Regions from separate parts of the Homo sapiens genome. Here region 2 is linked to region 1. Evidence: fine-mapped expression QTL. A gene starts in region 1. The other region holds a variant in brackets. All regions are shown on one strand. Distances are between the middles of the regions.

Evidence for each region.
Region 2: its variant is fine-mapped to the expression of ANKAR in monocytes (BLUEPRINT, PIP 0.95).

The regions. Positions count from the first base shown.
Region 1 is chr2:189,665,708-189,681,879 of GRCh38, forward strand. ANKAR (ankyrin and armadillo repeat containing) reads left to right here and starts at 8,963. Exons shown (of 23, transcript NM_001378068.1): 1 at 8,963-9,123; 2 at 10,749-11,384. The coding sequence starts at 10,784. ASNSD1 (asparagine synthetase domain containing 1) reads left to right here. Exons shown (of 6, transcript NM_019048.4): 4 at 334-1,889; 5 at 2,057-2,238; 6 at 4,734-5,124. The coding sequence starts at 426. The coding sequence ends at 5,019. LOC105373793 (a long non-coding RNA gene) reads right to left here and starts at 8,578. Exons shown (of 2, transcript XR_923692.3): 1 at 8,124-8,578; 2 at 7,413-7,686. It overlaps ASDURF (ASNSD1 upstream open reading frame), which reads left to right. Exons shown (of 4, transcript NM_001353493.2): 4 at 334-694. The coding sequence ends at 404. RefSeq lists a silencer at 8,619-9,038 and an enhancer at 9,089-9,348.
Region 2 is chr2:189,732,666-189,743,403 of GRCh38, forward strand. ANKAR (ankyrin and armadillo repeat containing) reads left to right here. Exons shown (of 23, transcript NM_001378068.1): 17 at 442-564; 18 at 5,018-5,176; 19 at 5,900-6,017; 20 at 8,677-8,786; 21 at 10,610-10,738. Among named protein-coding and RNA genes, the nearest start is that of OSGEPL1-AS1, 25 kb to the right of the region's middle. The variant G/T (reference allele first, on the strand shown) is at 3,839.

The DNA.
Region 1 (16,172 bases):
AGTATGACAAACCATTACCACTTTCTACCTTTGTGACTTTGGGTGAAATACTTTAAGCCTCCAAGGTATTGTGGGATCTAAATAAGATGCTATGTTAAAAGTGCTTAGCCAAGTGCTTGGGCCAAAATCAGCACTCGGCAAAACAGAAGCTATTTTTCTAAAAGATAAACATTCTTTATTAGTAGCCTGTTGTTAATTATCATTGGTACTGGCACAGTGTGTGTGTTTATATGGTTTGATTTTGGTAAACAGCTTGTGTTGCCCTCTGAATTGCTAGGTAAAAGTCCAAGAATTTTTATGTTATTTAATATTTATTCTCCTTCCCTGCAACAGATATATTGGATGAACTGAAAAAAGAATACCAAGAAATAGAAAACTTAGACAAGACCAAAATCAAGAAATAGTCAACCTGATTTCACATAACAATGTGTGGCATTTGTTGTTCTGTAAACTTTTCTGCTGAGCATTTCAGTCAAGATTTAAAAGAGGACTTACTATATAATCTTAAACAGCGGGGACCCAATAGTAGTAAACAATTGTTAAAGTCTGATGTTAACTACCAGTGTTTATTTTCTGCTCACGTCCTACACTTGAGGGGTGTTTTGACTACCCAGCCTGTGGAAGATGAAAGAGGCAATGTGTTTCTATGGAATGGAGAAATTTTTAGTGGAATAAAGGTTGAAGCTGAAGAGAATGACACTCAAATTTTGTTTAATTATCTTTCCTCCTGTAAGAATGAATCTGAGATTTTGTCACTCTTCTCAGAAGTACAAGGTCCCTGGTCATTTATATATTATCAAGCATCTAGTCATTATTTATGGTTTGGTAGGGATTTTTTTGGTCGCCGTAGCTTGCTTTGGCATTTTAGTAATTTGGGCAAGAGTTTCTGCCTCTCTTCAGTTGGCACCCAAACATCTGGATTGGCAAATCAGTGGCAAGAAGTTCCAGCATCTGGACTTTTCAGAATTGATCTTAAGTCTACTGTCATTTCCGGATGCATTATTTTACAACTGTATCCTTGGAAATATATTTCTAGGGAGAATATTATTGAAGAAAATGTTAATAGCCTGAGTCAAATTTCAGCAGACTTACCAGCATTTGTATCAGTGGTAGCAAATGAAGCCAAACTGTATCTTGAAAAACCTGTTGTTCCTTTAAATATGATGTTGCCACAAGCTGCATTGGAGACTCATTGCAGTAATATTTCCAATGTGCCACCTACAAGAGAGATACTTCAAGTCTTTCTTACTGATGTACACATGAAGGAAGTAATTCAGCAGTTCATTGATGTCCTGAGTGTAGCAGTCAAGAAACGTGTCTTGTGTTTACCTAGGGATGAAAACCTGACAGCAAATGAAGTTTTGAAAACGTGTGATAGGAAAGCAAATGTTGCAATCCTGTTTTCTGGGGGCATTGATTCCATGGTTATTGCAACCCTTGCTGACCGTCATATTCCTTTAGATGAACCAATTGATCTTCTTAATGTAGCTTTCATAGCTGAAGAAAAGACCATGCCAACTACCTTTAACAGAGAAGGGAATAAACAGAAAAATAAATGTGAAATACCTTCAGAAGAATTCTCTAAAGATGTTGCTGCTGCTGCTGCTGACAGTCCTAATAAACATGTCAGTGTACCAGATCGAATCACAGGAAGGGCGGGACTAAAGGAACTACAAGCTGTTAGCCCTTCCCGAATTTGGAATTTTGTTGAAATTAATGTTTCTATGGAAGAACTGCAGAAATTAAGAAGAACTCGAATATGTCACTTAATTCGGCCATTGGATACAGTTTTGGATGATAGCATTGGCTGTGCAGTCTGGTTTGCTTCTAGAGGAATTGGTTGGTTAGTGGCCCAGGAAGGAGTGAAATCCTATCAGAGCAATGCAAAGGTATGACACAGTGTTTCTTCTCCTGAGAATTCCTGAGACCTATTTTTGACCCTTAAAGCTTTTAGCATTTTGATTGTAAGAATATAGCATATTTTAGGTGCATTTATCTTATTTTCTTTACTGTGTAGTTGATAACATTTTTATACGGATTTCTTTAAACCTCATAGGTAGTTCTCACTGGAATTGGTGCAGATGAGCAACTTGCAGGTTATTCTCGTCATCGTGTCCGCTTTCAGTCGCATGGGCTGGAAGGATTGAATAAGGAAATAATGATGGAACTGGGTCGAATTTCTTCTAGAAATCTTGGTCGTGATGACAGAGTTATTGGTGATCATGGAAAAGAAGCAAGGTAATTCTAATCATTTGAGTGTTCTTACGGTATTTTTATAAAAACAGCAGAGTGTAAATGGAGACTTTAAAGTTTGTTTTCTCTTTGGAGACTGTTCACATGAATAAGAGCAGCAATAATAGCTTGGCTTTGTATTATAAACAAAGTCAGAAACAGAGCTGGGAAGAGCCAGGAGAGCATTTATTTTCTAGAACTCATTCTCTAAGAAATGTCTTTTCAGTAATTTTCAAAGGTAACATAATGACAGGATTGTTTTTAAGACTATAGTGAAAAATACTGTCAAAGTAGGCCAGGCATGGTGGCTCACACCTGTCTTCCTAGCACTTTGGGAGGCCAAGGCGGGTGGATCACCTGAGGACAGGAGTTCAAGACCAGCCTGGTAAACATGATGAAACCCCACTTCTACTAAAAATACAAAAAAATTAGCTGATCATGGTGCTGCATGCCTGTAGTTCCAGCTACTCGGGAGGCTGAGAATGGCTGAACCCAGGAGGTGGAGGTTGCAGTGAGCCCAGATCGCGCCACCGCACTCCAGCCTGGGAGACAGTGCGAGACTCTGTTTCCACAAAAAAACAGAGTAAAACTGAGATAGTGAAATACTAAGAGAAGGTATTTAGAGGGTTTTGTTCAGCTTTTAATGTTTGCTTTCCTCCCAGTAAGGGCATAAGCCCCACCTGCAAGCCTTCTCCAGTGTTATAGAAACTGGCTTTGTCTCTATAGACATTTCTGTATGTACAGATCCATGCTGATTTGAAGGTAGTCCTTACACTGGATATTCCTCTGCCACGTTTTTTGAACACAATTTAGTTACATATTGCAGATTACCTAAAACCTTCAAAGAAACCAAGGCACTTTCATGTATGTATTCTTGCTTTTCAGGTTTATTTTTACCTATATCATATTTCTGAAGGTAGTGAACAAGTACAGTATTTGAATAAAACTTTCTAAAACATTAAGTAAGGATAAAGGAAGATGTGACATTTAGTTATAAAGAGCAAAAATTCATTCAAGTAGGCTAATTGATTAAGTGGTAGTTTATTACAAGGGTGCAAGCATCCAAGAATAGGAAGTCCAAGTAAGCTTCATGAGAATTAAACATACTACACTTTCTCTCCCTCTCTCTCTCTCTCTCTTTGACTTCATTGTTTCTTGTCTCTACTTCAGTCTTTTCCTCTTTCCACTGACTTGTAGTTGCCTTTACACAGTTGTCTTTCTTAAGTTTCTGGTCCTAGCCCATGTAAAAGTTTAGCTACTATGTCATTATTCTGTCATAATTTTCAAGATTTCACTATAAACTGATAACTAATGCCATAATAAAGTCCGTAAACTGTTAAACTGTTTTCTCTTTGAAGGACATGAGAGAGGTAGAAATTCAGTCTGTTATTTCAGCTAGGTCATAGAGAAAGGAATTTGTCTAGTAAAAGCCCTTACTTATGAAAGTATTATATTATGCTCAAATAAAAATGCATATGAAGAATGTTTAAAGCAGCTAATACAGAATTGTGATATAACAAATATAGTGGCTAGATCTAAATAATTTATTACGTATCTTGACATACATATTAACAGTAGTGTGTTGATTTGATTCTCTAGTTAAATTTGCTTTTGCAACTCATTCATTTTTATGTAATATTCCAGATAACAAATGTCTTTGTCCTTTCCAATCTCTTAACCTAGAATAGGATGTAATAAAACGGAAACACTAGTGTAACTGTATTGCATTTTGAGATGTGGGATGGTGGGTGTTAAAGTATTTTAAACAGAAAAAGAACATAATTTTCTAGAAATTGGGGAAGGAAAAGGGCAGAAAGTTTTTTTTTAATCGAATATTTTGTTTCTAGGTCATCCCAGAATTTAGGGGAAAAAAATCTAATATTTTGTTCTGTTACAGTAATTTATCACCATTTAATTGGTTTAAGTATAATTAAACAATTTTGAGTAACAAAATTTTACCATAAGTGTTTTGCAGGTTCAGGACTGTGGAGCCCTTCTATATTGGTTCCATATCCCTAAAGTGTCATTTCTTTAGACCTGATAAAGATCAGACACAGATTGAATAGTTAGTTAAGATCATGCTCGTAGGCTAGGTGCGGTGGCTCACTCCTGTATTCCCAGCACTTTGGGAGGCCAAAGCAGGTGGGTCACTTGAGTTCAGGAGTCCGAGACCAGCCTGGGCAATGTGGCGAAATCTCATCTCTACCAACAAATACAAAGATTAGCTGGGTGCGGTAGTGCTCACCTAGGCAAAAAAAAAAAAAAAAAATCATGTTTGTTTTCAAGGCCTCCACAAAGATACCTTGTAAAACAATTTGAAATTATTTCTGGACACAATAAACCTAATTTATTTATTGAGATTTAGACTATTTTGTAGTATATGTATTAAAATTAGTCATGTTGTGAAACAATTTGGTTAAATTTTAGCTATAAAACTGTGTATAAATCAAAGCAGGTTGATTTTATTTTTACATAGTGGTTATATTATCTGTCTATTTTAGATTTCCTTTCCTGGATGAAAATGTTGTCTCCTTTCTAAATTCTCTGCCGATTTGGGAAAAAGCAAACTTGACTTTACCCCGAGGAATTGGTGAAAAATTACTTTTACGCCTTGCAGCTGTGGAACTTGGTCTTACAGCCTCTGCTCTTCTGCCCAAACGGGCCATGCAGTTTGGATCAAGAATTGCAAAAATGGAAAAAATTAATGAAAAGGCATCTGATAAATGTGGACGGCTCCAAATCATGTCCTTAGAAAATCTTTCTATTGAAAAGGAGACTAAATTGTAATGTGATTCACAATGTAACAATATAAAAATAAGTTTTTATATAATTATATAAAAGTAAGATACTCTGCTGCTTTACTATTGTATAACATAGTAGTTTTAAAGTTCATTTGGTTGAATTTTCATTTTTTCCTGTCACAGAGCTTCTAAAACCATGGAATTTCCTTAGTGATAGGGAATATCTTTTGTTGTTCATAATAAGCCCCTTTTGATCACACCTGAGTTTATGCTAATGCGTTGACTTAGGGTGAGGTCTCTAAATAGCCTTTAACACCTGCAGCTTGGGAGGCCAAGGCAGAGGGATCTCTTGAGTCCAGGAGTTTGAGAACAGCCTGGGCAACATGATGAAACCTCATCTCTACCAAAAAAAAAAAAAAAGTACAGAAAATTAGCTGGGCATGGAAGCATGTGCCTCCCTACTCAAGAGTCTGAGGTGGGAGGATCACTTGAGCCCAGGAAGTTGAAGCTGCAGTGAGGCTAGGATCATACCACTGCACTCCAGCCTGGGCGACAGTGAGACCCTGTCTCTAAAAATAAAAATAAAAACAAAAATAAAAATCAAGTGATTAGAAGAGTTGGAATTTCATCCCCACCCACCAACCTCTGGGAGGGAGAGTGGTGCTGAAAATTAAGGTCTATTAAACTTTATAAAAACTCTTGAACAAGATTTGATGAGCCTCTGGTTTGCTGAACATGTGGAGGTGCTGGGAGTGTGGTATGCCCAGAGAGGACAAGGAAGCTCCCTCTCATCTTAATTTTTTTTAATACTTTGCCTTATGCATCTCTTCAATTTGGCTGTGCCTGAGATGTATCCTATATAATAAGCCAGTAAACATAAGTATTTCTATGAGTGCTGTGAGCCATTCTAGCAAATTATCGAACCTGAATAGGGGGTCATGAAAACCCCCAGTTTATGTAGCTGGTCAATCAGAAGTACCAGAGATCCAGACTTGAAATTGCCATCTAAAGCAGAGACACCTTATGGCACTGAGCCCTTAAATGGAAGGATCTGACACTCACTCCAGGTAGATAGAGGCAGGATTAAACTGTAGGATACCCAGCTGGTATTCAGAGAGCTGGAGAATTGCTTGGTAATTCTCCACACATCTGGTGGAAAAAATCCACACATCTGGTGTCAGAAGTGTTGTGTGAGAGTGAAGAGAAACAGTTTGTTTTCCCAGACTCACTCTCTTTGATCACTCCATCCAGAAATGATTCAGTTCCCTCTCTTCAGGGACCATGGTTTAGACAGGGTCCTGTTTCATGGATAAAAGAACTACAGGTTTAAAGAAGCTAAACAATTTGCTTGAGGTTCATCCTCCTGAACAGTACTTGTTACTTCTATTACATCTTTTTAGGCAGCTCATTTTCCCACCCCAGTAACTTTTAAAGACTACAGTTGACCCCTGAACAACACATTTGAACTGTGCAGTTCCACTTATATGTGGATTTTCTGCCTCTGCCACCCCGAGACAGCCCCTTCTCCTCCTCAGCCTACTCAACCTGAAGACAAGAATAATTACGTCTTCCTCTACTTACTATGTCTTGCCTCTCATCCACAGTCACTCTCTCCACCTTTTTGTCTATTTACTCCAACCTGACATCCACCCACATTACTCAACTGTTAACTGCCATACCAGTGTCACTGTGAAATCTGTCCATTAGGATCGACACCATTTCTGGATCTGGCCACCCTTTGATTCTTTAATCACAGTAGCAAATAAATTTTAGGATCCGGACAAACAGGTCAGTAACCTGGCAAAGGCTTTCACATGCCCCGAATTTATTCCCTGGAAGATGCAATGTTCAACCAAAATTTAGATACTGCCTACATAGCTTTCATCCCTCAATCTGAAAGCAGACAACTTCAAGTGTCTGTGTGGGCCTGAGCACTAAATTGACATTGCTTATATTGGGAGTAGATGAACTTAAGAGGTTTGCCCCACGGCCTAGAATTGAATATTATAACACCAATACAGTTTAATACTGAAAATAGCTATAACTTACATAATGCTATATTCCAGGTGCTACTCTACTCTATGAGATTTAAATGTATTAATCAGTCAAACTTTTATAAGGAATTTCCAGGTCATCTGCTCCACCAGAATACTGAGAGAGACAGAGAGAGGATACACATGCATGTGTGTGAACCCCAAGAGGGCCTGGGCATTTACAACCTTCTGCTATTCAATCCCATTAGCTCTGGGATGGAGTTCTGTGTTGATCCTTTAAAAAATGAGGCATCTCTTTCCGAAGATTTGAGACACATGGAACAAACCATTTGGCTACCCAGGGGGAAACAATCCTTGAAGTAGGAGAATGTACATATATGGTTCATATTTCTTAAGTGCAAACATGCAAATCTTTGTAAAAAAAAAAGCCCTGGAATAGTCCTCATAAATTTATTAATATTTATTTCCATAGTAGCTAAAATAATGACATGGTTACTGGAAGAGAAATTCTGCCCCAAACAGTCACCAAGAACTTCCAAGCTGCTGCATTCAGTGGAAGTTTGTTCTCATCTCCCCTGACCGAGCAGCAGCATCCGATAAAGTTGGCCATTCCTTTTTTTTTTTCCACACACTTCTTTGGCTTCTGTGACCAATTTTGGTTTTCCTCCTGCCTTCTTGGCTGTTCTTTTTGTCTTCTTTGCTGACTTCACTCTCTCTACCTGACGTTTAAATGTTAAATTTCTCAGGTCTCTAATCCTTGGTTCTCAACTCCTCATTCTGCACGCTCTCCCTTGGTGATTTCAACCCCACTCCTGGCTTCAATTACTATAAATCTGCCAAAATTTATACATCTAACCCCTACTGCCATTCTTAGCCCAGAACTGTTTATCTAAAGCATATCTCACATCTCAATTTCTCTCACAGGTACTTCAAGGTCAATTAGTACATAACTGAACTCTTAATCTTGCCCTGATATCCTGTTGCTCCTGACAGAAATGTGGTTCTGACTTGGACACAACCTTCTTTTTCAACATATCCCCAATCTGTCACCAACAGGCAACCTCATTATTTTTCAAATCTGTCCACAGTCCCTGAGCCCCACCTCCACTGCCACTACTGTAGGCTAATCCTTTGGGATGAAATTCAAAATCATTACTCAGCAGCCTGCATGATCTGTCCATCGCGCACCTCAGCAGCTCGGTTTGTGCCCACATCTCTCTTGTTCTCTAAGCAGGGTTTTGCGGTTTCTCAACCATTTCAACTTTGTTCTCACTTCAATTCTTTCTCTCCTGCTGTTCCCTGTTCCTGAAAAGCTACTTGTCCAGTCCTTTGCTTGGGTAGCTCTTTTCCATCTTCTAGGCTCGGAGGGGAAAAGGGCACTTCCTTAGGCAGCCTTTCCTAGCCCTGGGCTAGGTTAGCTTTCATTCGAGTGCTGTCATTCCATCTAATATTGGCACACTGTTAAATATAGCTGTGAGATGATCTGTTCAACTGTAAGCTCCTTGGGGTTTCGTGTCTGCCCTGTTTTCTAGGGTTTCCAGCTTGTAGCTGGGTGCCTGACTCATAATAGGTGTTCCATAAATGCTTGTTGAATGAAAGAATGATGATGGAGGTGGTATTCCAACTCGGGACTGCCTCAACGCCCGGCGCTGTCTCCTCTGCTACTCTGTTTCGGTGTTTTAGCAGAGGCAGATAGTGAGGGCGGCACAGTGCCCACGGCATGCCGCTGGACTAAGCGCTAAGCGGGCTTGGGATGATGCGCACGCGGGGGGTCTGAGCCAGCCAAGGGGCCGGGCGCCGCCTGGGGGCGCTGCGGCTGCTGCGGGACGCACCAGGCCTAGTCGCCCGCAGGCTCCGCCCGAGGAGCAGCCCAGCCACCCCAGGGCCCGGAGGACCAACCGCTTCGACCCGCGCCCGGGCGGCGGCAGTGTTGGCCGGCGAGGCGAGGAGGGCCGGGCCGCCACGGTGGGGCGAAAAGCCCTGAAAGTTCCTCTCAGTTCCTTCCGGTGCGCCTCCCGCTCGCCCTTGCGGAGGCCCTGAGGGCGGATTCAAGGCCCCGCGAGAAGCCATCTGAGGCGGCGACGACTGTTCTCAGCCCCACGGGAACGCCGCGGACGCAGCGTCCCTCTCCCGGACAAGAAAACAGCCATTCTAGAGTAGGTTCCTCCCCTTTCCTTGTTTTTTCCCCTTTCCCGTGCCCATGGCTGACGCGAGCTGCTTTTGGACGTGGGTCCCGGGCTTGACTGGACAGACGTGGGTTCTGTTTCTGAAAGGCGTAAAACCTCAGACTTGTCCTGCAACCTCCTGGTCTCCGTTTTTGCCTCTATAAAGTGGGCATAACAAGGTCTGACTCACTGACCTGGGGTCTCAGGTGTGGCGCCCAAACCAGCACTATCAGCATTTCCTGTAACTTTACTAAAACGCATATTTTCTGGCCCCACTACAGCTCATTGAATCAGAAACTCAGTGGTGGGATTCAGCGATTTGTATTTGAACAAGCCCCAGGTGATTTTGATACAAGCTAAATTTTGAGAACCACTATATAATAGAGACCAATCAGATGAAATAAATCAAACCATTATATAGTAAAGAACCTGGCTCAATAAATAGTAGTTGTGGTTATTATTATTTCAGGAATAGACAGGCATTCATTGGCACAGAAATTGAAGGTTAAGCAAATGCTTCTTTCCTTTTCTTTTTCTTTTTTTTTTCTTTTTTTGAAACAGTGTTTTTCACACTTGTTGCCCAGGCCACCGCAACCTCCGCCTCCTGGGTTCAGCCTCCTGTCTCAAGCCCCGCGAGTAGCTGAGATTACAGGCATGTACGACCACGTTTGGCTAATTTTGTATTTTTAGTAGAGACGGAGTTTCTCCATGTTTGTCAGGCTGTTCTCGAACTCCTGACATCAGTTGATCTGCCCGACTTGGCCTCCCAAAGTGCTGGGATTACACGCATGAGCCACTGCGCCCCACCCTTTTCTTTTCTTTCATGCAGGTCAGTATAGTCTTGCTTTAAAAAACTGAAAACAAAATAAATATCCATATGATTTGGATATTTATCCCCTCCAAATCTCATGTTAAAATAGATTCCCCAATGTTGGAGGTAGGGCTTGGTGCGAGGTGTTTGGATTATGGGGGTGGATCCCTCATGAATGGCTTGGTGCTTTCCTGGCAGAGTGAACTCTACCTCTGAGCTCATGAAAGATCTGGTTGTTTAAGAGTAGACACCTCCCCTTTCTCTCTATTGTTCCGTCTCTTACCATGTGACACACTGGCTCCCCTTCCCCTTCCGCCATGATTGTAAGCTTGGTCTCACAAGAAGCTGAGCAGATGCTGGTGCCATGCTTGTACAGCCTGCAGAATTGTGAGCCAAATAAACCTCTTTTCTTTATAAATTATGCAGTCTCAGGTATTCCTTTATAGCAACACAAACAGACTAACACGAACATATACAAAAGAATGCCTCTCCAACAACAAAATAGGTATGTAACAGTAGCTTCTCACAGATAAACTTAACGTTTCTTTTTGACATACATCTTCTTGTCTTTTGAATTCTTTGAAAAGCAGAACATGGTTAATGATAAAGGTTTTATAATTTTAATTATTTTAATTCAAATTTCAGTTTTCATATACTGCAGTTATTTTTAATTTGAAAACTATAATGGTTGACCATGAAAAATTAATCTTATGTAGGTGAAAGGTACAGATTTATTTCTAGACAAATCCAGTTTCATTGGCATGTCAGATTTTATTGATAATCTTTTCCTTCTTATTCATTGCAGAAGCTTCAAAAAGGACACACTAGATTTAATTAGAAATGTTAAGATTGCCCAAAAAAGGATTACCTAGATTTGAGCAAGTTCAGGATGAAGACACCTACCTGGAAAATTTAGCAATACAAAGAAATGCATCTGCTTTTTTTGAAAAATATGATCGGAGTGAAATACAAGAGTTACTAACTACTGCACTAGTTAGCTGGTTGTCTGCCAAAGAGGATGTGCGCTCTCAAGTAGACCTCCCATGTGGAATTATGAGTCAAATGAATAACGTAGGCTTCTCCACTGCAATCCTACTGACTCCCGTGGACCCTACTGCCCTCTTAGACTATAGAGAGGTCCATCAAATGATAAGAGAGTTGGCTATTGGAATTTATTGCCTAAATCAAATCCCTTCCATCAGTTTAGAAGCTAATTATGATCAGAGTTCTTCTTGTCAATTACCTCCAGCTTATTATGATACCAGAATTGGGCAAATTCTGATCAATATTGACTACATGCTGAAAGCACTATGGCATGGAATATATATGCCCAAAGAAAAACGAGCTAGATTCTCTGAATTGTGGCGTGCCATCATGGACATTGATCCTGATGGAAAACCTCAAACAAATAAAGACATTTTTTCAGAGTTTAGTTCAGCAGGTAAGAGAATTTAACACTTCTTAAATTTTTTTTTTTTTTTTTTGGAACAGAGTCTTACTACGTCACCCAGGGTGGTCACGAACCCCTGAGCTCAAGCCATTCACCCACCTAGGCCTCCCAAAGTGCTAGGATTACAGGCATGAGCCGCTGCACCTGGCCACTTCTTAATTATTTTTATTCAATGCCATTTTTAAAATTTTTAAATTTTATTTCGATAGTTTTTGGGGGAACAGGTGGTTTTTGGTTACATGGCTAAGTTCTTTAGTGGTGATTTCTGAGATTTTGGTGCACCCATCACCTGAGCAGTGTACACTGTACCCCATGTGTAGTCTTTTATCCCTCATTTTCTTCCTACCTTTCCTCTAGAATCCCCAAAGTCCATTATATCATTCTTATGCCTTTGCGTCCTCATAGCTTAGCTCCCACTTATAAGGGAGAACATAAAATATTTGGCTTGCCATTCCTGAGTTACTTCACTTAGAATAATGGTCTCCAACCCCATCCATGTTTCTGTGAATGCCATTATTTAATTCATTTTTATGGCTGAGTAGTATTTCATGGTATATATATTTTCTTTCTTTCTTTTTTTTTTTTTCTTTTTTGGAGATGGGGTCTCCCTGTGTTGAACAGGCTGGCCTCGAACCCCTGGCCTCATATGATCATCCCATCTTGACTTCCTAGAGTGCTAGGATTACAGACATGTGCCACTGCACCTGGCCACCACGTATTCTTTATCTACTCATTGGTTGATGGGCCTTTAGACTGGTTCCATGTTTTTGCAATTGTGAATTGTGCTGCTATAAACATGCATGTGCAAGTGTCTTTTTCATATAGTGACTTCTTTTCCTCTGGGTAGATACCTGGTAGTGGGATTGCTGGATCAAATGGTAGTTCTACATTTAGTTCTTTAAAGAATCTCTATACTGTTTTCCATAGTGGTTGTGCTAGTTTACATTACAATCCCACCAGCAGTGTAAGTATTCCCTTTTCACCACATCCATGCCGACATGTATTATTTTTTTATTTTTAAATTATGGCCATTCTTGCGGGAGTAAGATGGTATCTCAGTGTGGTTTGATTTGCATTTCTCTGATAATTAGTGATGTTGAGCATTTTTCATATGTTTGTTGGCCTTTTGTATATCTTCATTTGAAAATTGTCTATTCATGGCTTTTGCCCACTTTTTGATGGGATTGTTTGTTTTTTTCTTGCTAATTTGTTTGAGTTCCTGGTAGATTCCGGATATTAGTCCTTTGTTGGAAGCATAATTTGCAAATATTTTCTCCTACTCTGTGGGTTGTCTGTTTACTGATTGTTTCTTTTGCTGTTTAGAAGCTTTTTAGTTTAATTAGGTCACATCTATTTATGTTTGTTTTTGTTGCATTTGCTTTTGGGTTCTTGGTCATGAACTGTTTGCCTAAGCCAATGTCTAGAAGGGTTTGTCCGAGTTATCTTCTACAATTTTTATGGTTTCTGGTCTTAGATTTAGTTCTCGATCCATCTCGAGTTGATTTTTATATAAGGTGAGAGATGAGGATCCAGTTTCATGTGGCTTGCCAATTATCCCAGCACCATTTGTTGAATAAGGGTGCCCTTTCCCCACTTTACATTTGTGTTTGCTTTGTCAAAGATCAGTTGCCCATAAGTACTTGGTTTTATTTCCGCGTTCTCTATTCTGTTCCATTGGTCTCTGTGCCTATTTTTATACCAGTACCATGCTGTTTTGTTAACTATAGCCTTGTAGTATAGTTTGAAGTCAGATAATGTGATGCCTCCAGATTTGTTCTTTTTGCTTAGTCTTGCTTTAGCTATGTGGGCTCATTTTGGTTCTATATGACATTTAAGATTATTTTTTCTAGTTCTGTGAGGAATGATGATAGTATTTCTATGAGAATTGCATTGAATCTGTAGATTGCTTTTGGCAGTATGGTCATTTTCACAATATTGATTCTACCCATCCATGAGCATGGGATGTGTTTTCATTTGTTTGTGTCATCAATGATTTCTTTCAGCAGTGTTTTGTAGTTTTCCTTGTAAAAATTATTCACCTCCTTGATTAGGTATATTCCTAAGTATTTTATTTTATGTTATGTTATTTTATTTAACTTTATTTAATTTTGTTTTTTGCAGCTGTTGTAAAAGGGATTGAGTTCTTGATTTGAGTCTCATCTTGTTTGTTGTTGGTGTATAGCAGTGCTACTGATTTGTGTTCATTGATTTTGTATGCTGAAACTTTACTAAATTCCTTTATGGCATCTAAGAGGTTTTTAGATGAATCCTTAGGGTTTTCTAGGCATATGATCTTATCATTGGCAAAAAGCCACAGTTTGACTTCCTCTTTACCAAATTGGATGTCTGTTATTTATTTCTCTTGTCTGATTCCTCTGGCTAGGACTTCCAGTACTATGTTGAATAGAAGTGGTGAGAGTGGGTATCCTTGTCTTGTTCCAGTTCTTAGGGGAAGTGCTTTCAGTGTTTTCCTGTTCAGTATAATGTTGGCTGTGGGTTTGTTATAGAGGACTTTTATTACCTTAAGGTATGTCCCTTCTATGGCCATTTCGTTGAGGGTTTTAATCATAAAGCAATGCTGGATTTTGTCAAATGCTTTTTCTGCATCTATTGAGATGATTTTTGTTTTTGATTCTGTCTGTATGATGTATCACATATATTGACTTGCATATGTTAAACCATCCCTTCATCCCTGGCACGAAACCCACTTGATCATGGCGTATTATCTTTCTGATATGCTGTCAGATTCCGTTAGTATTTTCTTGAGGATTTTTGCATCCATGTTCATCATGGATATTGGTCTGTAGTTTTCTTTTTTTGTTATGTCCTTTCCTGGTTTGGATATTAGGGTGATACTGGCTTCATAGAATAATGTAGGGAGAATTCCCTCTTTATCTTTTGGAATAGTTTCAGTAAGACTGATACCAGTTCTTCTTTGAATGTCTGATAGAATGCAGCTGTGAATCCATCTGGTCCTGGACTTTTTTGTTGTTGGCAATTTTTTATTGTTTCAAGCTCTCTACTTGTTATTGGTCTGTTCAGAGTTTCTGTTTCTTCCTATTTAATCTAGGAGGGTTGTATATTTCCAGGAATTTATCCATCTCCTCTAGATTTTCTAGTTTGTGCACATAAAGGTGTTTATAGTAACCTTGAATGATCTTTTGTATTTTGTGGTATCGGTTATAATGACTCCTGTTTCATTTCTAGTTGAGCTTATTTGGATCTTCTCTCTCTTTTCTTGGTTAATCTAGTTAATGGTGAATCAATTTTATCTTTTCAAAAAACCAGCTTTTTGTTTCATTTATCTTTCACATTGTTTTCTTCTTTCAATTTCATTTAGTTCTGCTCTAATCTTTGTTATTTCTTTTCTTCTGCTTGGTTTGGGTTTGGTTTGTTCCTGTTTCTCTAGTTCCTTGAGGTGTGACCTTAGATTGTCTATTTGTGTTCTTTCAGACTTTTTAATGTAGGCATTTACTGCTATGAACTTTCCTCTTAGCTCCACTTTTGCTGTAATCCCAGAGGTTTTGATATCACTATTATCGTTTGGTTCAAAGATTTTTAAATTTCCATCTTGATTTCATTGTTGACCCAAAGATCATTCTGGAGCAGATTATTTCATTTCCGTGTGTTTATATAGTTTTGCGGGTTCCTTTTGGAGTTAATTTCCAGTTTATTCCACTGTGGTCTGAGAGGATACTTGATATAATTTTGATTTTCTTAAATTAATTGAGACTTGTTTTGTGACCTATCATATGATCTATCTTGGAGAATGTTAAGCCATTTTTTAAATTTAAAGGTAATTTATCTGGATCAAGGTGATGCCAAGAGCTTTGTGAAGATCTGAGGTCCACGGAGGTTAAGGATCAGCAAGAGTGCTTGGTAGTTTCCAACAGCGGTAGAGCCTTGACATTCTGACGAAATTGTGTTTACTTTTGTTTCCCTTTTTACAAATTTACCTGAGGCTCTCATTTGAGAGGACGTGGGACTGATGAGCCATCATTCTGAATGGGCATATGCCAAACTGGTAAAGAAACAACAAGCTCTTTTTAGATCCAGATATCTAGATGGAAACTTTCAGTATAGAAGTCAAATTCTAGAAAGTGATAAAGGTTAGATACATATTGATTAATCATCCACATGTTAAAGCCACGAGAGCCTTTGGATCATCCAGTTAGAGCACCAGTAGAGACCTGATCATGGCAGGAAGGAGCACATGTCCTGTTGTGTAACTAAGGGAAGAGGGCTCTTGCTTACTTGATGACAAAGTTAGTTACATCAAGCCACTTCATGGCCCAGGATCTGGTCTATTTCACCCATCTGTGTGTCATATCTGAGGTTGCCACCCTCTATGAGGATTCCCTTGCAATGGTGCACCTGGTAAGGGGATCAGAGACACATAGGAACATTCTAATCAAGTTGTAGGTGGAAACAGAGAGCACCAAAGGACTAATGCTGTCTGCTTTCTACACCTACATTTTCAGGGTTGATACTCAAAACACTTAACCACCAGCACAGTATTGGCACTGAGCAATCAGAATGGACGTCAGCCATAATGCTGGAGCAGGGTCTCAGAGACCTCCTGCTTGTCATATTTACCCTTTTCTGGATCATGGAGCTTTTCAGGTGATCCCTGGGGAGGGAGGTATTCAATGAGCTTGGGGCTGCAGCAATTCAGTTTGCCAATTGAGGGTTCAGTATTTTAACAATGTGGTGTTATTGTTGCATATTAGCTAAATATCAGTGCTTTCCTGATATGAAACTTATGTCTTGAGTTTTGTG
Region 2 (10,738 bases), 64 kb after region 1:
AAAAAAAAAAAAAAAAAAAGGTGCTGCATTAAAGCCTTACAACTCAATGGTCAGTAGTTAACAAGCAGTTCAAAATAGCTTTTTAATCCATGTCAAAAAATTAAAAGAACTTTTTTTTAATATGGAAGGGATACAACTATGTACTTAGGATAATACCTCCTTACATGCTCTGCTCGCCCTTGTTCCTTTCTCCAGTGCCCTCAAATGGAGCTCTGTGGTTGGTCCCTGAACACAGAAAGGATATTTTCTCAGCTATTAAAAATTATGAGGGAGTTGTAAGTGCAGTTCTTTCGCTAGTAAGATAACTGGAATCAATGGATTATATTTTAGCAGATTTTATAGTATCTTTCCACAATGTATTCTATATAAATGCCTGCACAATGAAATGTGTAATTTCATAAAGCATAATTGAAAAGTAATTTCTGAAAACCACATGTTTAGGTTGAAGTGGCATTTTCCTTGGCATGCATTGTCCTAGGGAATGATGTGTTACAGAAAGACTTACATGAAAATGAAGGATTTGAATATGCTGATGTCCTTTATCTTCTTCACTCAACAGAAAAGGTAATACCTTTACAAAATATTGAGGTTCATTTTGAAAAAAATGGTTTTTATACCACATCTTCAAATTATCAAGTCTTCTTCATGGCAATATTCAATGTATTGTTTAAGAAAAGACATGTAAAAGATCTCTTTGTAGGTCATTAGTTTGTAATGATGTAATAATACAGCTCCATATTTTTCTGAGTTGTCCCACTTCATCGTTGAAATGCAGTAATTTTAATGTTTGGTGATGAGTCAAAAAACAAATCTCTTATGTCCCAAATCAAACCTTTACAATAATTTTATGCCCTTTCAGCCCTCAGTCATTCACTTATCCAATATGCTAAAGGGGTGCTTCTCAAACTATTTATGATGAAGAAATAGCTTTTTCCCAGCAATCTATTATGGAAGGATAATTTTTTTTAACTTTAAAAATTTTGAAATAATCTTAGACTTTCCAAAATTCTGGTATATCCTTCATCTAGTTTTCCCAAATGTCAACTAGAACATTAACATTGATACAATACTATTAACTAATTTGCACGCCTTATTTAAATTTTGCCAGTTTTCTCAGCAATGTCCCTTTTTTGTTTTTTTTATTTAATTTAAAAAATTATTTTTATTTTTTTCAATGTCTACTTTTGTTCCAGAATCTAATCGGGGTCTCACATTACATCTAAATGTCTTGTCTCTTTAGCCTCCAGTTTGTGAAGCTCAGCCCTTCTTTGTTTTTCATGATTTCATGTCTTTCATGATTTTGACATTTTTGATGAATTCAGGCCAGTTATTTTATAGAATATCCCTCAATTTGACCTTGATGTTTTCCCCTAATTAAATTGAAGTTACACCTTTTGGCAAGAATATCACAGAAGTGATGTGGTCTTCTTCACTCACCTTCCCAGTACATCATAGCATGAGGTATATAACGTTGATGTATTTTACTGGTAATCTTAATTTTGATTACTCGGTTAAAATGGGGTCTGCCATAGTTCTTCGCTGTTTTTCCTTTTGTAGTTAATAAGTATCTTAAGGTGAGACACTTTGAGATTATGCAAATATTTTGTCTTGCATCACACTTTTGCTCACCAATCTTAGCATCCATTGATGCAACAATAATAAATGTAACATTTGCCTAAGGGCAATTAAAAAAATTCCCTTCTTCCTTCTACGTTTATTAGTTGGTATTCAACTATAAAGAAGATTTGTTTCTTTTCAATGTTTATTCTCAGTTTTGTTATCCCACTGTTAATGATTTTGTGGACTGTCACTGGTCCACGGGCCACACTTTCAACAGCACTACCCTAAGGAAATGAGAGCTATTTTCTACAGGGCATTTCACAACCAGGAAGAAAATTGCCAGCGACGTTTCTCTCAGTTCTGTAAGGTTTTAGAGGGATCAAGGAGGGTCAGGAGGTGGGTGGGAATTAAGTCATGTTATTTTTTTAATACAAAATTTTATTCTACTGTGGTACACAAAAGAGAAGTGCTGCTATAAAAATATGGGAAATATTTTGGGAGGTCGAGGTGGGCAGATCGCTTGAGATCAGGAGTTCGAGACCAGCCTTGCCAATATGGTGAAACCCCATCTCTACTAAAGAGATAAAAATTGGCCGGGCGTGGTGGCACATGCCTGTAGTCCTAGCTACTTGGGAGGCTGAGGCAGGAAAATCACTTGAACCTGGGAGGTGAAGATTGCAGTGAGCCGAGATTGCATCACTGCACTCCAGCCTGGGTGACAGAGCTAGACTCCATCTCAAAAAAGAGAATATATATATATATATATTTACAGTAGAGTAAAAAAAAATATATATATAAAATATATATATATGTGGAAACTAATAGGGTGAGGAGACTAAATGAATGTCTACCTGACTCTCTAAGCCACCTTTTGCCCCTCTACTCTGTTCCTTCTAGCTTTTACTCCCATTACCTTACTCCTCATGTGCACCCTTCTTCTCCCTTTTGTTACACATTCCACTCTCAAGTATTCTGCCTTCCTTCCCAGTTTGTTACCACCTGCTTCACTCTCTGGACCCTGCATTTGGCTTATAATAGATTTATTCTTGTGCATCAGTTCTACAAATGGTAGGGAATCTTAGAGAACTAGAAGGTTTAACCAAAGGATTTATCCGGCCTTGGCTGAAATTTTTAATTCTAACACTCATCACAAGGCAAGTTAAAAGTCCTCCAGGGTTTCTTGTACTATATTTTGCCTCAAACTACCTGCCCTGCAGAGGCACATTAGTGCTCTTAGGGCTTTAGAGACAGTACTGAACAACTATCCTTCATTAAACCTATAGTGGGAGACTTCAGATTACACAGGTGTGTTGTAGAAGTTAGAGGGGAGGGAGGGATGTTCAGCAACATTAAATATGTCACTGAATGAATAGCTATCTTATGGATAATGACAGGAATGCAATAAAAATTAAGTCAGGAACCCAGGTTCTTGTAACTCCTAGCCACATTGATACTGTCTACATGGAGATGCAATAGGTTATGTGTTGTTTTTAAATTATAATTTAACTATTTTCATGCTACCAAACTAGAATAATATATGAAATGGACCATTGAGATTGATTTTCACAAGCCACATAAAATTAGTTGCATTAATTTAGTTACTGTTATTCTACTCTTTTTAATTAACTCAAATATGTGGGCTAATTAATTATGAATATACTTTTGAAGAGAGGTTAGTGAGCATAATTAACAGGCACTCTTTTCCCATTTATAAATCAGTGGGTATAAAGTAACAATAAGTAACCAGTGGGTATAACCACCCTGGTAGATAGGTAAATGAAAATATATATGAAGTAAAGAGTTTAAGACAGTTGACATTGGGGAAGAAAAGTATGGAAACACATGTCTTTCCTCAAGCATTAATTTTTAGCCTTCTGAACTGGGAATAGCCAACTTGGTTCTTGTCCTGTATCTGATACTACCTGGCATGGTGGGAGCAGTCAAACTATGGGATTCATTTTGAAACATTAATAGCCACTTTATAATCTAAACTATTTACTGTAGACTTCCACAGTGATACCGCAGGAGTGAACCCTACATGGAAAAGAAATGGAAATCAGTCAAGTCTTAGCATATTTCTCTCACTTCGCTCTATCTGACCTTGATACACAAAGCATGCCCCTTTGGTTCATTTCCCATTGCCACTCTTTCCTACTTGGCTCTAGGTTCTATTTTGCTGTCTGTTAATCCACGCTTTGACTATGAATGAGACCTAGTTTCTCAAGCCTTTGACTGTACCTAATACCTTTCTTTTTGCCTATTTAGGTGACTGGGTTTT[G/T]TGTGTGTGTGTGTGTGTGTGTGTGTGTGTGTGTGTATGTGATTTTTATTATGGAAAATTTCAAATATATATAAAATGACAGGGTAGCATAATGAACCTAAATGTTCCCACCCAGCTTCAGCAGTCATCATCTCATGGCCAATCTTATTTCATCTATACATCTACTCATTTCTACTAAATTATTTTTGATGCAAATTTCAAGCATCATATAATTTTATCTATAAATATTTCAGTATGTACATGCAGCATTTTAATATTATGATTAACAGTGGCAGAAGAAAATTCAGGGCCAGGTGTGGTGGTTCATGTCTGTAATCCCAGCACTTTGGGAGGCCAAGGCGAGCAGACACCTTGAGCTCAGGAGTTCAAGACCAGCCTGGGCAACATAGCAAAACCCTGTCTCTACAAAAAATACAGAAAATTAGCCAGGTGTGGTGGCACACGCCTTTGGTCTTAGCTACTTGGGAGGCTGAAGTGGGAGCATTGCTTGAGCCTGGGAGGTGGAAATTGCAGTGAGCCAAGATCACGCCACTGCACTCTAGCCTGGGTGACAGAGGGAGACTTTGTCTCAAAAAAAAAAAGAAAAAGAAAAAAAAAGAAAAGAAAATTCACCAAGATGAATGAGTTCTTTCTGTTGTAATACATTGTTCAAATAACATACTAATAATACAATATATTGAATTATTTTTAATATTAAAAATAAGATTTAGTAATAAGATTTTATCTTTTGAATCTTTCTGGAAGGTCTGCCATACTTATATATCTCTGGCAAGCAGACTAATTCTACAGAAGAAACTAGCTTTTGCTGTTTGCCCAGCCTCAGAATGTTAAAATGTGATTCTTCAGAATACATTATTTTTCTCCTATTCTTCCTTAAAATATAGTACAATGGAATTTTACAAATGAATTTAAGAGATTGATATGGAATACCCAACAATGTATGGAATGCAATAGATAACATGTTATATACAAGGGTAGTTTTGATTTATCAACTCTACTTTGAAATGTTGAAAGTTACAACATTCTAGAGTAACTATTATCTCTTTTCCCTAGTAATGTCATATTTTACTCCCAGTGATAAGAATGCAATATATTTTAATGAGCAAGAACTTAAAGTCTATTATGTTGAGTAACATGATAAATGAAGTTCACCATAATGCCTGTTTCTCCTATTTTTAGGATATTTGCTTAAGAGCAGGCTATGCATTAACACTTTTTGCCTTCAATAATCGCTTTCAACAATACTTAATATTGGAAAGTGGAATAATGACCATATCTATTTTTGAACGTTTTCTTGAATCAACAGTTGAAACTGAGAAGGCAATGGCAGCATTTCAGGTATAAAATTGAGATTAACACCTCAAATTAATAAATATGTCATTTTGTGAAAACTTGAAAATTACAACAATTTGGAGGCCCAGAAAAACGTTTACTTATTTGTAAAAACTTAGTACTTTGCACATAAGCCCCTTCTACCTCATAAAAACTCCATTATCTATGAGGATTTCTTCATTAATACAGAATTTTACAAGTTATAAGACACTTGCTTATGCCTTTATACCTCATCTGATGTTTATAACAAGCCTGTAAGGTTGACAATCAGGTAGTATTATTTTCATCACCCCCATATTAAAAGTAAATAGGTAGAAAAACATGTTAGCATCCAAGACAGGTTTTCTAACTGCAAATCTTTAGTTGATCACACTGATCCTTCAACCTAGTAACAACTGTATGTATCTGGGAAGTCTTATTCTCTCTCTTCATTTTCTATCCTGTGCCCTTTAAGAGAAGTAATTTCTATGAACCCATATTGAAAGGGTGCAAAAGTTGCAAACATTGTAGGAAGAATAATAGTACCCCCTATGATCACTGCTATGACCAGACAGGGACAAATACTCTAACTCTCCCCACCACCACATGCTGCTTCTATTGAATCCTCTAAACACTCCCTTTAAGAAGTATCAAAAGAATTAAAAAAAAAACATAAAAAATGACAAACGTGTAATTAGAGAAGCTGAGTAGAAAATGTTCAAAGACTCTCTGCTTCTTTTCTGTTTTCAGATTGTTGTACTGGCTAAAGTCATTAGAGATATGGACCATATTACTTTGTCTGCAAGAGGTGTTACTATTTTAGTTGATAGTCTGTATTCAGTTCAGACTTCTACTATTGTCTTGACAGGTAAGAAATGACTAGAAGTTAATTTTAGCCACATAAAACTATTTTCAAAAACAGTTTATTGTAATCTGAATAATAATAAAATAATACGCCTGATACACTGCCACAAGTTTAAAGAACGAACTTATGTTTATATCTACATGGAACTCCACAGCAAGTCTACACGAAACAATGGGTGTCTACTCTGTACCCCAAACAGAAGCTGAGTAACTCTGAATACAGACTTTTTGCTTTCCTAATTACTTTTTCAAACCCTTAACTTTTTTTTCCAAGATATAAATGAGAATTCACCTATGACCTACAAACAGCAAAATAAAAAAACTGATTTATAATAGTGGTGGCAGATTTACACAGATGTACCTCTGTCTGGTTTCCTTTTGTCCAGTTGTGCACATTTTGCTAACACTGAAAAGTTCTTTACATCGCTGTGCAACAAAGCAAAGCAAGATGGTCCCATAGCGTTCTCAACACATTTATTGCTATTGTATAACTGTGTCTACTGCAGACCTAACCCAACAGCTCACACATAATAGGTGATCAGTAATATTTAATTGACTTGTTATGCCACTCTTAAAGTAACATAAGGCAGGGTCAGAATGAGTAATATGCAGTGACTACTACCAATATAAACAAATAAGTATTTGTTTTTTAATTAAAATGTATCACTAAAGGAAACTTTACTTGATGCCATAGAATTACATGTTTATGAAGTATATGTGCATGGCAAGGAAGGAAAAATGAAGCAATGAAAACTTTCTGATGGAAACTAGCTAGAAAAAAAGTTTAAAGAAGTTATTAAATATGTTTTAATCTAAATAACATTATTAATTCAATGTTATAGTAATTCTGTGACTCTGAAAAACAACTGTAGTGGGTTTAGACTCCACAGTTTTTTTTTTTTTTGAGATGGAGTCTCACTCTATTGCCAGGCTGGAGTGCAGTGGTGCGATCTTAGCTCACTGTAACCTCCGCCTCCCAGGTTCAAGCGATTCTCCTGCCTCAGCCTCCCGAGTAGCTGGGACTACAAGCATGCACCACCAAGGCCAGCTAGTTTTTGTATTTTTAGTAGAGATGGGGTTTCACCATGTTGGCCAGGATGGTCTCGATCTCTTGACCTCATGATCCGCCCGCCTCGGCCTCTCAAAGTGCTGGGATTACAGGTATGAGCCACCACACCTGGCCTCCACAAACTCTTATAGGAAAGAAATGCCATATTACATTGGCTTTCAAATATTAAATTAATTCCTCCAGGATGAGGAGAAATGAATCTCAGAAATTACTGGACTTTCTCTGCACTCCACAACCAGTCATATGCATGTCCAGGGTATCTCAGGCAAAGCTTGATATTCAGGCCTCAGGTATAGTGTAAAATAACTGATGTGCTTGGTGTCAAGTTGACATGGTTTCCAGAAGATGCTCCAAAGGCACAGAAGTTTTTAGGAAACTGATTTCTGTTACCAAGAATTCAGTTTTCCTATTTATACCACTTAGCTATTCTCTACTCGGAGTTCCTCCTTCTACTCCTTTGAGAACTATAAACTTTAGTTCTCTTTCTTAGCTGCTCCCTTGGTCTGTTTCCATTTCTAACTTCCCATCTTTAAAGGGTCTTTTTAACTTTAAATAGAGCTTACCTTTAGACAATTTTTGCTTTAGATGATACAACCAATTTTCCCCATTCGGAGGCAATAAACACAAGGAATTTCTTGGCTTATAATAGAGGCCAGACAAAAATATAAGGAGAACAAAAACTCACGTCATATCTCAATAAAGTATCCACATACTCCACACAGAAATATGAAAATACATTTTTATCTTCAAACAAATATAAATGAAATAATATTCAGTTGCTAGCTGCACATTTAATTATTGGGACACTTTATTATTTTAAATCTGAAAACATTTACTTTTATGTAAAAACTTCAGTGATTTTTAAACCTCAATAAGCAATACATTGATTGATTTTAAAGTATTAATAAGGCTTAACTCAAAGCCATTTCAACCGCAAAAAGGACATATTAATTTTTTTTTTTTGAGACGGAGTTTCGCTCTTGTTGCCCAGGCTGTAGTGCAATGGCACGATCTCTGCTCACTGCAACCTCTGCCTCCCAGGTACAAGCGATTCTCCTGCCTCAGCCTCCCGAGTAGCTGGGATTACAGGCATGTACCACCACGCCCGGCTAATTTTTGTATTTTTAGTAGAGATGGGGTTTCTCCATGTTGGTCAGGCTGGTCACGAACTCCCGAAGTCAGGTGATCTGCCCACCTCGGTCTCCCAAAGGGCTGGAATTACAGGTGTGGGCCACCACGCCCGGCCTAAATTTTCTTATGATAATTAAATCATTATGTTCATAGTTATTTTTAAAACCCTAAAAACTTCAAAACAAAATATATTCTGAAGATATGGGAGAAAGAAAACCTCTAATTTTCAAATTTTTCACCCTTACATAAACCTATTTAATTTACACTATTTGTGACAGAAAACCAAACTGTAATTTTGGGGAGTTTATTCTATATTTACATATGCATGCTTTTTCTCAGTGCTGCTTCATTGACAGAGATGTCTTGTGACACAAACTTTTTTCAGTGCTATGTGCAATTAATGAAAGTATTATAAGTTTATATCAATTAAATAACACAAGCATTTTTCTTGTTTAATTTATAGGGAATTTAATAGCAAGCCTGGCTCATTCTAGAGCTGGTATCCCAGAAGCATTTACCACATTAGGAACAATCCAACGGCTCTGCTATCATTTGTACTCGGGAATAGAAGAGGTAAAAACAAGCAAAAACTAATTCTAAAATTAAATATGCTAAAAATATAATTTACCTCTCCCTCTGTGGACTAATTTTTCCACTGATTGACTGTGTTATAGATATAATATAATTCTTATTACTAACTCAAAATTACATGACTGTGTTATATATATAATATAGTTCTTGTTACTAACTCAAAATTACATGACTTTTCTAATACTAATTAGTCATACATATCTGCCATCCACAATTTTAATTCCTATAAAAATATACATTTGTTTTAACCCTAAGACTTAAAATTAGGATTTTAATCACAAAAGCAGTATAAAACGACTACAATTAAAGATTTAAAAAGAACTACCTGTTCAAATTAGTTTCTGATTTAAAAAACAAAAACAAAACCCTACAAAATAAGTCATCTTAATCCTGGAATTAAGAGTCAATCTATAAGTACGTTGATGACAAAGAAACTTATAATTGTTTACTAAGTATCTAATGAAAACCGGTGACTCTGATCTAAGTTATTTCTATGATTTGAAATGAATGAAAATGGAATTCATAGGATAGCTTTCCTTATGTGTCAAGCAGGGTTAGATGTAAGGGTGTGTGAAAGAGGCCGTGCTGGTCACAGCAGTGGCTTGCCTCTGAGTGTTCCCCTACTCTCTTCCACTAAGGTCTAAAGCAGTGTTACTCCACCTTTAGGGTATATCAGAATCACCTGGAGGGCCTGTTATATTGCTTGGCCCCATTCCTAGAGTTTCTGAGCCAATACATTTGAGGTGGGCCCTAGAATTTGCATTTCGAACAAGTTCCCAGCAGCTGAACTACAGGTCCAGGGTTCAAGGTTTAGAAGACATATGAGCATACAGAGCAACCGGATGCCAACATAAAGACCAATATGTTCATTCTATGAAACTTTTTATGCTACTATCATATTCCCTACAACTGGCCAGGAACATACTTTAATTAATCATATGACCAATCTATGGGTCATAGACAGAGGGTATTTTCTTCAAAGAACTATTTTTTCTAGAGTCCTGTGGCCTGACACTTGTGCTTCTTTCTGTTTTTGCCAGTGGAAAAGTGAGTTGCTCTTGTAACGTCTGAATGTTAAAAAAAAATTTTTTTAAAGTAATAAATAAATAAATAAGTTGCTTTCTCTAAGATTTCTGTTACCAAGAGTTCAGCTTTCCTATGTGTACCACTTAGCTATTCTCCAAAGTGTCTGTTCCTACTCCTTTGAGAATGATAAACAAAATAATTAAATAAGAGTTTCTAGGGATGGAACCCAGGCATAATTGTCAAAGTTATATGGGTGATGCTAATGCATTGTCAGGGTTGCATCCACTACCTTAGTTCAAACTCAAGTTCTTTCTTTGGTGGCACATTAGAATTACCTGACACACACACACACACACATTAGAATTACCTGACACACACACACACACACACACACACACTAGAATTACCTGACACACACACACACACACACACACACACACACACACACACACACACACACACACACACACACACACACACACACACCCCTGAAAGGATTCTGATTTAGTTGGTGGGCTTTTTTTTTTTTAAACACTCCAGGTGGTTCTAAAATGCAGTTAAGACTGAGAACAACCACTAGAAATCAATGGCAGTTGACAGCTCTCTGTAAAAATATGGCAGTTAAGCTTCCGTCTATACACTGCCATTTGTTTGCATACATATTTGCTTACACTTGCTCCCTCCCTTACAGAGACTTTCCTATGAAATAGCTAATTAGAACATTAAGATATTTTAAGAACAAAGCCCACTGGTTAAGAAAGAATTGTTTCTTCATTTAGGTTCGTGCAGCTTGTTCCTCTGCTCTTGGCTACTTAACATACAATGCAAATGCTTTCCGCATCCTATTAAAAGAATGCAGGAATAAACCTAATCAGTTCATTCGTATAAAAAATAATATCAGCAGAGAT